3 separate regions of the Homo sapiens genome follow, and all the other regions are reported to be linked to region 2. Evidence: microRNA targets listed by miRTarBase, many of them from high-throughput screens and not tested one by one. Region 2 holds a microRNA gene; each other region holds the end of a gene's coding sequence.
What was found. Region 2 holds the annotated microRNA hsa-miR-7106-3p (AGCUCCCUGAAUCCCUGUCCCAG, at 1,726-1,748, shown strand). A microRNA usually pairs through its seed, bases 2 to 8, with sites in the 3' UTR of a target mRNA and lowers its output. Matches are read on the target gene's strand: a 7mer-m8 pairs with bases 2 to 8, a 7mer-A1 pairs with bases 2 to 7 and ends in A, and an 8mer does both.

Region 1: miRTarBase lists SLC39A10 as a target of hsa-miR-7106-3p. Seed matches in the 3' UTR shown: 7mer-m8 at 2,514-2,520.
Region 3: miRTarBase lists STRBP as a target of hsa-miR-7106-3p. Seed matches in the 3' UTR shown: 7mer-m8 at 2,166-2,172.

What each region holds. Positions count from the first base shown.
Region 1 is chr2:195,734,145-195,737,481 of GRCh38, forward strand. It overlaps SLC39A10 (solute carrier family 39 member 10), which reads left to right. Exons shown (of 10, transcript NM_020342.3): 10 at 739-3,337. The coding sequence ends at 897. Among named protein-coding and RNA genes, the nearest start is that of SLC39A10, 79 kb to the left of the region's middle.
Region 2 is chr12:113,157,509-113,160,860 of GRCh38, reverse strand. MIR7106 (microRNA 7106) reads left to right here and starts at 1,684; the gene lies at 1,684-1,748. It overlaps CFAP73 (cilia and flagella associated protein 73), which reads right to left. Exons shown (of 8, transcript NM_001144872.3): 7 at 3,171-3,259; 8 at 1,585-2,160. The coding sequence ends at 3,182. It overlaps DDX54 (DEAD-box helicase 54), which reads left to right. Exons shown (of 20, transcript NM_024072.4): 20 at 1,752-3,352. The coding sequence ends at 1,984.
Region 3 is chr9:123,122,773-123,125,772 of GRCh38, reverse strand. It overlaps STRBP (spermatid perinuclear RNA binding protein), which reads left to right. Exons shown (of 19, transcript NM_018387.5): 19 at 100-3,000. The coding sequence ends at 176. Among named protein-coding and RNA genes, the nearest start is that of MIR600HG, 8.8 kb to the right of the region's middle.

The DNA.
Region 1 (3,337 bases), not on the chromosome of region 2:
TCTTCCTTTTTTTTTAAAAAAAAAAAAAAAAAAAAAGTTTTTTTGAGATGGAGTTTTGCTCTGTTGCCCAGGCTGGAGTGCAGTGGTGTGATCTCAGCTCACTGCAACCTTTGCCTCCCAGGTTCAAATGATTCTCCTGCCTCAGCCTCCCGAGTAGCTGGGACTACAAGCGTGCCCCACCACGCCCAGCTAATTTTTGTATTTTTATGGGTTTCACCATATTGGCCAGGCTGGTCTTGAACTCCTGACCCCATGATCCGCCCACCTCGGCCTTCCAAAGTGCTGGGATTTATGGGCGTGAGCCACCGTGCCCGGCCCAAGAATCTTGCTTTCTTATTGAGTTTAAGATACATTAGTAAATGTGGGAATTGTGGTGATCGGTTTTTGGAGTGTCTTATTGGTAATAAGTTGCTTTATGCTTTAGCATAAAGTAAAATGTCAGAATTTATAAGGTCAGTGGATAGTAACTGTTTGAAAAATGACTAATGTGCATATTTTAAGTGTTTGTTGTGGGGGATGAGGAGGAGGGAACAGAGTTAGTATTTCCTAGCAAAAGCATAAAATTTCTTCAGTATTTGACTAAAATACATCTGGTGGGTAGCATTGTGTTCAATAAAATAATTATTTTGTCTGTAGTTACACTTCAGTCACTAATTTTCTTAAGTAGGAAAATGTTTTTAAAAACTGTTTTGAGCAGAAGTATTATACAAAGTTTAATGTGAAGATTTATTTTTCTAGCTTCCAGAAATGTTGCATGGTGATGGTGACAATGAAGAACATGGCTTTTGTCCTGTGGGGCAATTCATCCTTCAGAATTTAGGATTGCTCTTTGGATTTGCCATTATGCTGGTGATTGCCCTCTATGAAGATAAAATTGTGTTTGACATCCAGTTTTGACCTTTCCCAGTAATCACTGTTGATTACGAGAATGTTACCATGCAGCTTTGCATCTGTTCCTTGTACTGTATGCACATTGCTCAAAGGAAAGTCAGTGGCTTGCACTACTTACAAGTTTCATAGATTTGAGCCTAACCACAAGAGGCTGGTGCTTAGTACTGTTTTCCCTGCACGTAGGGGTCTTTTAAAAATATAAAGCTTGTGATAAAGAGAGGAGAATATGGGACTCCATGAACCAGTGTTGATATGTTTGATTAAGACTTTTCACAAAATAATCATATAAAACACTAGTCTCTTTATTAGTAGAAACTTCTGTGGCTATGCAGAAATAGAGATCGAACCAAAAAAAATCATTTAAACTTTAAAAATATTTTAAATGGACTTTGGGGAGACATTTTTTGTGTGTTTTAAGAATGAATTGTAGTGCTCTTTAATTCAGCTACATATATTCATGTGGTGATAGGGATCAACTTGACACAACTTTGAAACTGCATAAAGTAGACATAGGAACTAGAGGAAAGCTCAGGCTGCATTAGAGTATGAATTTAGCATTGGGAAAAGCCCTTATTCTTGAATCTAGAGTTACTATTTTTGTATATATTTGCATAGTGTTTAAACCTGCAGCCTAAACTACTGAAATTTGTGATTGTATGTTTGTGTGAGCTTCAGTTTAATGAAAGATTCATAATGGTTCTTTGTATTATTATAATACTTGGTGTTGGGGTGTTCTTTCTGTTTTGTTTTTTACTTTAATTTTGTTTTGATTTTTTTTTTTTTTTTTTGGCGGGGGTAGGTGAGGGTTTGGAGCATGTGGTCTTTTTAAAAAATTGTAACCCTCTAGAAAATATCAAAGAAATGAACCAGACGTGGTTTAAATAGTTGATTTTCCTATTTTAACAGTACCAACTAGTTAATTGGGAAATGTAAGTTCTGAATGTTCACATTGCTTTACCAGTTTGGCACTGGAACCAAGAGCACATGTCGTGGCTGGCTACAAGGTTGTAAAGCAGAAAATCGAAGTTTACCATGTCTGTAATGTGTACATGAAGTGTCAATTTAGAACAGTTACTAGGATAAACTCCATTATTGCCATGGCTGTCATGGTACCCAAGTGACTTGGAAGATGCATTTAAATTACTCAGCTGAAATCACTTGATCATCTTGTGCCAAGATATGCTGTTGGTGCCTGATAGGGATTAGTCTTTTAGGTGCCCTGTTCTCCTACCATAATTGTGAATGATTTGTGAGAAGTGCAAGCCATGTTTATCCTGAATTTTTACTTAATAATTTGTATTACTAGTCATATGCATGTAGCTTTCTGTTTACATCCTATGCCACATGGTCTTCATTTATGCCAGGTAAACTGTATTTGAACTATGTGCAGCTAGCTTTGTTTTAATCTGCTTGGCAACCAGTGTAGCTGCTGTAACAATCTATCTTATTGTTCAAATATATAAGAGCCAAACTCTTTTCCATTCCATCTAAAATGTTTTCATTTAGTACTCTTCTTTCCTCCTACTCTATGAACTTCAAAACAAAAACAAAACTTTGAGAGCAGCACATGCATCCAGGTATTTATAGATTATTGCCAGTGTCTTTTCTGTATGCTATAAGCAAGGGAGCTTAGGTGTTATTTCTTTAATTTATGCTTGAATCTGAAAAATTATTTCTGACTTACTCCATGGCCTCCTTATAATAAGTAGAAGTTTTATATATAATTAATTTTCAGCATTGGGCACTGAATTAGGACAGTCCTCATCTCATTGCTTGGCCCTTCAAGCAACCTAGCTAAAAGGTGCTGATATTTTATTTAGTACTGCCAACTTCAAGTGATTTAGATATCTATCTATCTAGATTTCTGAACCAAGATATATTTATAGTTCACTTTTGGGTTTTTATACCCACGGTAGGATTCTGCATTCCAGCATTAAATCTGCTTCATTTTAGAACCTTTATAAAAGCAATAGCTGGAATATACTCCCAGTTTTAAAATAAATGCCTGATTGATTTAAAGCAAGTAGGTTATGCTGAAGTATATAAAGAAGTTTTATATTCTCTCAAAAATGGTATTATCTTTCTTTATTTGCTAGATTCTTACAAATCTTTTAAGAGGGCTGTAACAGTTGCTGCTAGTATTAGGGTTCCACATCATTCTAATGTATAGTTTCAAGTCTTAATAGACAATCTGAATTCCACTACATTTCTTTTGGCTCCAACATTCCTTTTAGCTTGACCAGTCTAATTTAAAATGTGTTTGTTGGAGGTCATTAACGTTACTTGTACAATGCTGTCACTGTGTGACATCCATATGAATTTTGGTATATATCAATCAATCAATCAATCACATTGCATTCAATCAATCAGCTGTGATTGATTGATTATGCTTAGAAATACTATAGTAACTAGATGCAGTGTGAATTTTTTCCATTAACAAACAAAC
Region 2 (3,352 bases):
CTGCAAAAATGGCATTTGCATGTGGTTCGACCTGACAGTGAGCATGAATTGATTCCCTGTGGCATCCTTAGGAGTGACGTTCTTTTTAGCAATGCTGTGGGGAAGTTCATGTCACCAAAGACGCAGTCAGAAGCAGCTTTGGTTCTGGGAGGAGGCGATCACAGGGGATGTTGAGGAAGATACTTCCTTGAAATGTGGGTTGGCAAGTGGTACATTTGGTCATCTGAGGACTTGGACCTCTTTGATCTGGCCTGGGTCCCTCAGCCAGTAACAAGCTAAGGTGGATTTGAAGCCGGCTCTGTCTGCCAGAGCCTGTGCTTAAGGGCTGTTATCAGGGAGGGGCTCCCGCTTGCTGGGTGCAGGCAGGCTCTGTCCTGGAAGGCCACACATGACCTGGGAGGCAAGGTGACTGCGAATACCCATTTTACAGGCCAGGAAACAGGTGCCTTATGAGGGCTATGACTGAACCTGGGTCACCCAGCTGCCCAAGGCTCCCACCTGGAGTCTTCCCTGGGGAGAGGGGAGTTTGGGACCATGTCTTGGGTCTCTCTCAGATGGCCTTAGCCCCTGCTTGTGTCCCTCCACCTCCTGGGGCTGGTCACTGCCTCCCCTGGGTGTCTCTGTGAGCCTGCGTGCATTTGCCTGGGCCTGTTCTCTGTGGCTCCTCCCTCTCCAGCTCTCCCATCTGTGGGAGTGTCTCCTTGTCAGCATGGCTGGGTGGGGACCACCCACACCTCACTTCTCAGCCTGTTTTTACCTAGGTGAAACAGCAGCTTCTGCTGCGAGCATTGCCGTGCAGTGGGCGTGCAGGGGCTGGGGAGACGGGGGCGACCTGTGGGCTTTGGGAAAAAGCAGCTGTTCTTCCTTTGCTGTCCTCATTGGAGGTGATAGGTCCTGCGAGGCACCCTGGCTCCATTGGAGACAGCTGGGACCACCTTAATGGTCATCCCTCTAGGAGCCCTGGGGAGGCTGCTGTTATGAATGGGGAAGAGGAGGAGGAGGACACAGGGCTTAGTGGGAGCCAGGGAGGGTGGTGCTTGCCTCCCGGAGAACTAGAAGAATGGACTACCTGATGCCCACCTGTGGGGCTGGGGCAGGGTCGCTGACCTCTGCTGCTGCTGCTGCTTTGCTGTGTGATCTCAGATAAGTCCCTCTCCCTCTCTGGCCTTCTTTGATTCCTCTCCCACCTAAAGGAAGGTTCATCTACACTCTTTTTTCATCTAACAAGCCTAGAGCATGGTGTCCATGGAGACAGAGGCTGAGGTCTGTATCGGTTACTATGGGGGGCCTCAGAGCCTGGCGTGCCGTAGGTGTGCTGTGGAGACATACACTCCTTGGTTGGAGAATTTTTAATAGTAACAGTCATGCCCAAAAGGCTCCCACTATGGGACAGGCCTTGAAATTCTGACCACTTTACACCATGGAAATGCATTTACTCTTCACCCATGAGGGAGGTGCTGTGATTTATAATTCATAGATGGGGAAACTGAGGCACAGAGCCGTTAACTTCTTGCCCACGGTCCAAGAGGTCACAGCTGGGATTTGAACCCCAGCGGTTCTGGCCCCGTGTTATTGACCACTCCATGAGGCTGCCTAAAACTTTATTAGCCACCTACTGTGTACAGACACTGGGCCACAGCAATAAGCACAGAACAGGAGTAGGGGCAGGGGAGGAGTCTGCAAGCTTCTGGGAGGAGGGGATCTTGGGAGTGATCCCAACAGCTGAGCTCCCTGAATCCCTGTCCCAGCAGGTGCATCCCGGCCCCACGCCCCAGGCACCCCTGCAGGCCGAGTCCGCCCGGAACTCAAGACCAAGCAGCAGATCCTGAAGCAGCGGCGCCGGGCCCAGAAGCTGCACTTCCTGCAGCGTGGTGGCCTCAAGCAGCTCTCTGCCCGCAACCGCCGCCGCGTCCAGGAGCTGCAGCAGGGCGCCTTCGGCCGGGGTGCCCGCTCCAAGAAGGGCAAGATGCGGAAGAGGATGTGAGGACCAGGACCCAGCCCCGTGGCTCCTTGATTGGCCTTAGGGTGGGCATCAGCAGACGTTCCCGTGCACCACTGTGTGCCTGGCCCTGTGCTGGGCACTGGGGGCACTCCCTGCAGGAGCCATCATCTGTGAAAAGGAGCACTGTATGGCCACAGAAGGGCAGCAGCTGCGTCAGCCTAAGACAGAGACATTTGAACAGGGCCTTGAAGGGTGTGCAGGAGTTCGCCAGCAAAGCCAGGCAGGCCAAGACTTGAGTTGGCAACTCAGCTGCTGCTGCTTCCATGTGTTCTGGGTTCAGAGGTCATGGCTGCACCGGTCAGAGCCCTGAGTGCCTCAGGGTTTGGCAATGGAATTTTTAATGTAATAAATCTTTATTGAGCACTGCTGGTGGCCAGGAGTGCGGTCTACTTGGGGAACTGGAATGGAGAGACCCAGGTACTAAAATCCCAGCTAACGTGGCAGAGGAGTTGCGGGTCTCCTGAGGGTGAGTTCTGCTGCCTTGTCCATTTAGCGATGAGGAAAGTGAAGCTCAGAGCACAAACCAGGTGCCAGAGGCGGGAGTTGGTCCCCCTTCCTCCCACTGGACATGGTTGCAGCTGGGAGTGGGCTGGGGGAGGGGAACAGGATGCCCAGCCCAGGGGGCAAGGACACAGCTGCTCCCCTCTGGCTATGAAGAGGTTAACGCGGCCCCTCCACACCTGGAGGTCAGAACCTGGCCTGTCCTCTGTCTTCTTGCCACCCACCCCCTGTTTGAGGTTCTGAGAAGGTCAAGGGCAGCCCCAGCAGCTGGATTCTCAGGCTGGGCCCCTCACCTGGCAGAGTCCATAGTGGAGGGGGCCTTGGTGATCTCTCATCTAGCATGGACCCTGTTCTGAGACCTGACAAAGAGTTTTTTTTCATGCCCCAACCACCCTGGCAGGGAGGGCCTGGTCTGATCTCATTTTAGAGGCAGTTGCCCCACACATAGCCCCTTGACCTTCCCATCACCTCCTCATCAGGGCCTGCATTTATGGAGTGCTTGCTATGTGCCCCTCATGGCAGGCCCACAGCACTCTGAACAGGCACAGCCCTCCCATCTTCCCAATGAGGAAACGGATTCAGGAAGAGCCACTCAGTCCACACCCCATTGGAAATGTGGGCCCTCCTATCTCAGGGTCTCTCAGGGGTTCCCTCTCCCGCTGCTCACCTGTGTCAGGGCTAGGAGGCAGGGGCTGCAGGCTCAGCCTGACCCAGGCCGGCCAGCATGGCAGAGAGGTCCTGCATGAACAGCTTCACCTGGGGGGGCCCAGCACGAAGTCACATCCCAGCCCCAGAGTCACTGTCCAGCCCCCACCCCTCAACACGCGGGGGAGGCCGAAAGGTAGGGCG
Region 3 (3,000 bases), not on the chromosome of region 2:
AAAGGTTAATGATAATTACTGTCAGATATTTTTTTACCTGAAATTTTTATTGGAGTATTAAAACTTATTTGGAGTCCTCTCCGTTTCTTTTCTCTGTAGGTTTACCCAAGAGAATGGTTCTGTTACCCGTTATGAAATTTCCAACATATCCTGTTCCCCACTACTCATTCTTTTAGCAAATGACAGAAGCTAATTCCTATTGAACAACAATACAGTACAACACAGAATGTTAGAGAAAAAGCCTTTTTATCCTGCTTTCTTTGAACACATACTTGATCAAAATTATTTGTAAAGAACATCTTTCCTACTTTTTGATTTTAACAAATGCAAATTTAGTTCTCTAAAACTTGAAAAAAAAAAAAGAAACCAGTTCTGTGAAAACGGTACCTCATTTCTGGAAAATAACTTATACCAGCCCTTCTGTTCTAGGGAAATAAAAGTCTAGCAGTTCAAAGTTTAAGTTTTAAGAGACGTATCAGATTATGTAAAATTAAATTTGTGAAGGATGTATAGAGTCTCAAACACTGATCACAAATAAACTGCTTTGTTGTAACACAGAGTACTGCCTGGTTCCTGATGCAGTCACTGATTCTTAGTTGATTGATATGTATTTGCCCCAGGGCACTTTAATTTGGGCTGTAGTTATTTTTTTTAATACAATAGAGACTTTTCATTTAACTTTAACTTTGTAAATATTGAAGTGTGTAATAAAGCCAATAAAATATGGGTTTGAATATTGTTTTAGCTTATTATTTTTGATATGTTTTGGTATCAAATTACAAGGAATTGAAAACTAATAACTTAGCCCTAGAAGCCCATTCACTTGTAAGCAAAGTGCTAAAACAAAGCAAAGGTGATTGTTAGTTTGAGCCAGTCTACTCACTTTGTAAGCCCTTTGTACTCCTGTTGTACAAGGGCCATCCCCATGATAAAGGTTCCATTCTGTTATTTGAGCATTGCTTATTAAAATGATGGCACTACCCAGAGATGGGGAAGGAGAATGTGATTATCCTAGTTTATGAATTTCCAAGTTTTTAAAAATAATAAATTAATCAATCAATCACCCTCTCTTGTTCTTGTGGCCTTCTTCACTCTGTAAGATATTGTGTTCACTCCCTGGCTTTTTTCATGCAGATAGAAGATTAGTGATTTTGCTGGGATTCATTGAAGGGTCTCCTTTCCTCTTCAATTACATCAGAATCTAAAGCAGCAACAGGGTCCCCATAAAAACTTGCTCTTCGATTGTCCCAGTTCTTGTTGAGTGCTGCTGTGAAAAGTGACAGGTTTCAGCCATGGGTCAGCATTTCTTTTTAAGACACCTGATGATGCTGGTGGAAATGGATCAGTGGGTAACATTGTGCTGTTCTGTAAAGGGTGCAGACCTAAGTCCTCCACTTGCATTCTCACCTTGTTTGGAAAGCCAATGATGTTACTAGGTCAATGGTTTCATTAAGGTACTCACCCCCATGAAGGAGCAGCAGTGTGGTCCCCTGTCAATATTTATAAGGCACCATGTCTTAAAAATGTCTGTTTTTAGTATGAATTAGCTTTCATTTTCCCTATTCAGTTCTGCTTTTGGGAACTTGACAGGGCCCATCCATGAGAATGGGCTTCACAAAATATGGCAAATGTATGTACCAAATTCCTTCGGGACCACTAAATAAAGGTGAAATGGGCAATGTACAACAAATGTTAGTGTCACTTCTCAGATATATATTACACAATGATTAGTTTGTTTCTTCTCCTTGGTCTTTTGTCTTTATTAGTGGTGGGTGATACTTTAATAAAACCTCATCACTTGCTGGAAATAGCTGTAACTTATCATTCTCATCCTGTGCATTAGTGGCTAGACATAAACAAGAGGGCCCATTTCAGCTGGGAGTTTTCATGTTTCATTGATGCGTTTTGCTGACCTATGGATGAAACAGAGCCATCACTGAGAAGAAAAAGCATGGCTGATAGTGTCCAGTTTTTATTAATTAAATCTTTACAGTAGTCCTCATTGTCTTTGGAATACTATTAATTGGCAGCTGCGGCTGTATTGTTATTTGAAATTGGTCATCAAATTTGGATTCCACGTTGGAATCTCTAGATATTTCTCGTTAGAAAATTCTTTTGAAGTAGCTGACTCTGCTTCATAACTCACGCGCTCTGTAATGGTGAAAAGGGAGCTGTGCTGTTTTCCAACATGATGGCAGTCATTTCAAATGGTTTCTACCAAGTCTTTTTTTTTTTTTTTTAATTTTGTTGTTTGTTGGAAGTTACTAACCATGTTGTAAACCTGCCCAGTTGCTGCAAACTTTTACATTTCTCTGCTTTACTTAAAATAATCGAGCTGTCAGTCCTTTGTTAGAAGTGGTAACCATGCAAGTTCAACTGTTTAAATTCTGTAATGAATTAAGTGTCCCCCCACCTGTTGCCCTTCCCACCCTTCCATTTTGTAATGAAAATTCCACTTACAGCTGAAAGAGCAGAGAAATATAAATGAAGCTCTTGGCTTCACCAAATTGCCTGAGATTAACATGAAGTTTTGCTTCTCTGCTCTTTTCTCCACTGTAGGTGGTTTTTTCATTGACAGCCCCTATTGCCAGCCTCTGAGCGTCGCACCATTTATTATTCACTTGGGCCCTCAAGATTTCTTCTCTGACTTCTAGAACCATCAGGTTGTCTGGCTTGAAATGGCAATTTCTATGTCTTGGTCTTAAGAGCAATGTGACACCCTGAGGCTATCCAGCTTTCAGACACTCCACTCTGACACCCTCTTTTTGAAAGCAATGACTGATCATTTTAAAGAAGAGCAATACTTTGTTCAAAGCCACGGTGTCTGTTTTAAAACTTTTCCTTTGGAAACCTAGCAATATCTGTACTTAACCCCTTTTTAGCATAGTTTCTTGTCAGGGAGTTTACAGGTCAGTGTAGAGCTTAAAATTAGCGTGTGAGCTGTGCTATGTTCTGACAGTTTTTTACACTTTTTAGCACATAAATAGTTACATTCCTGAC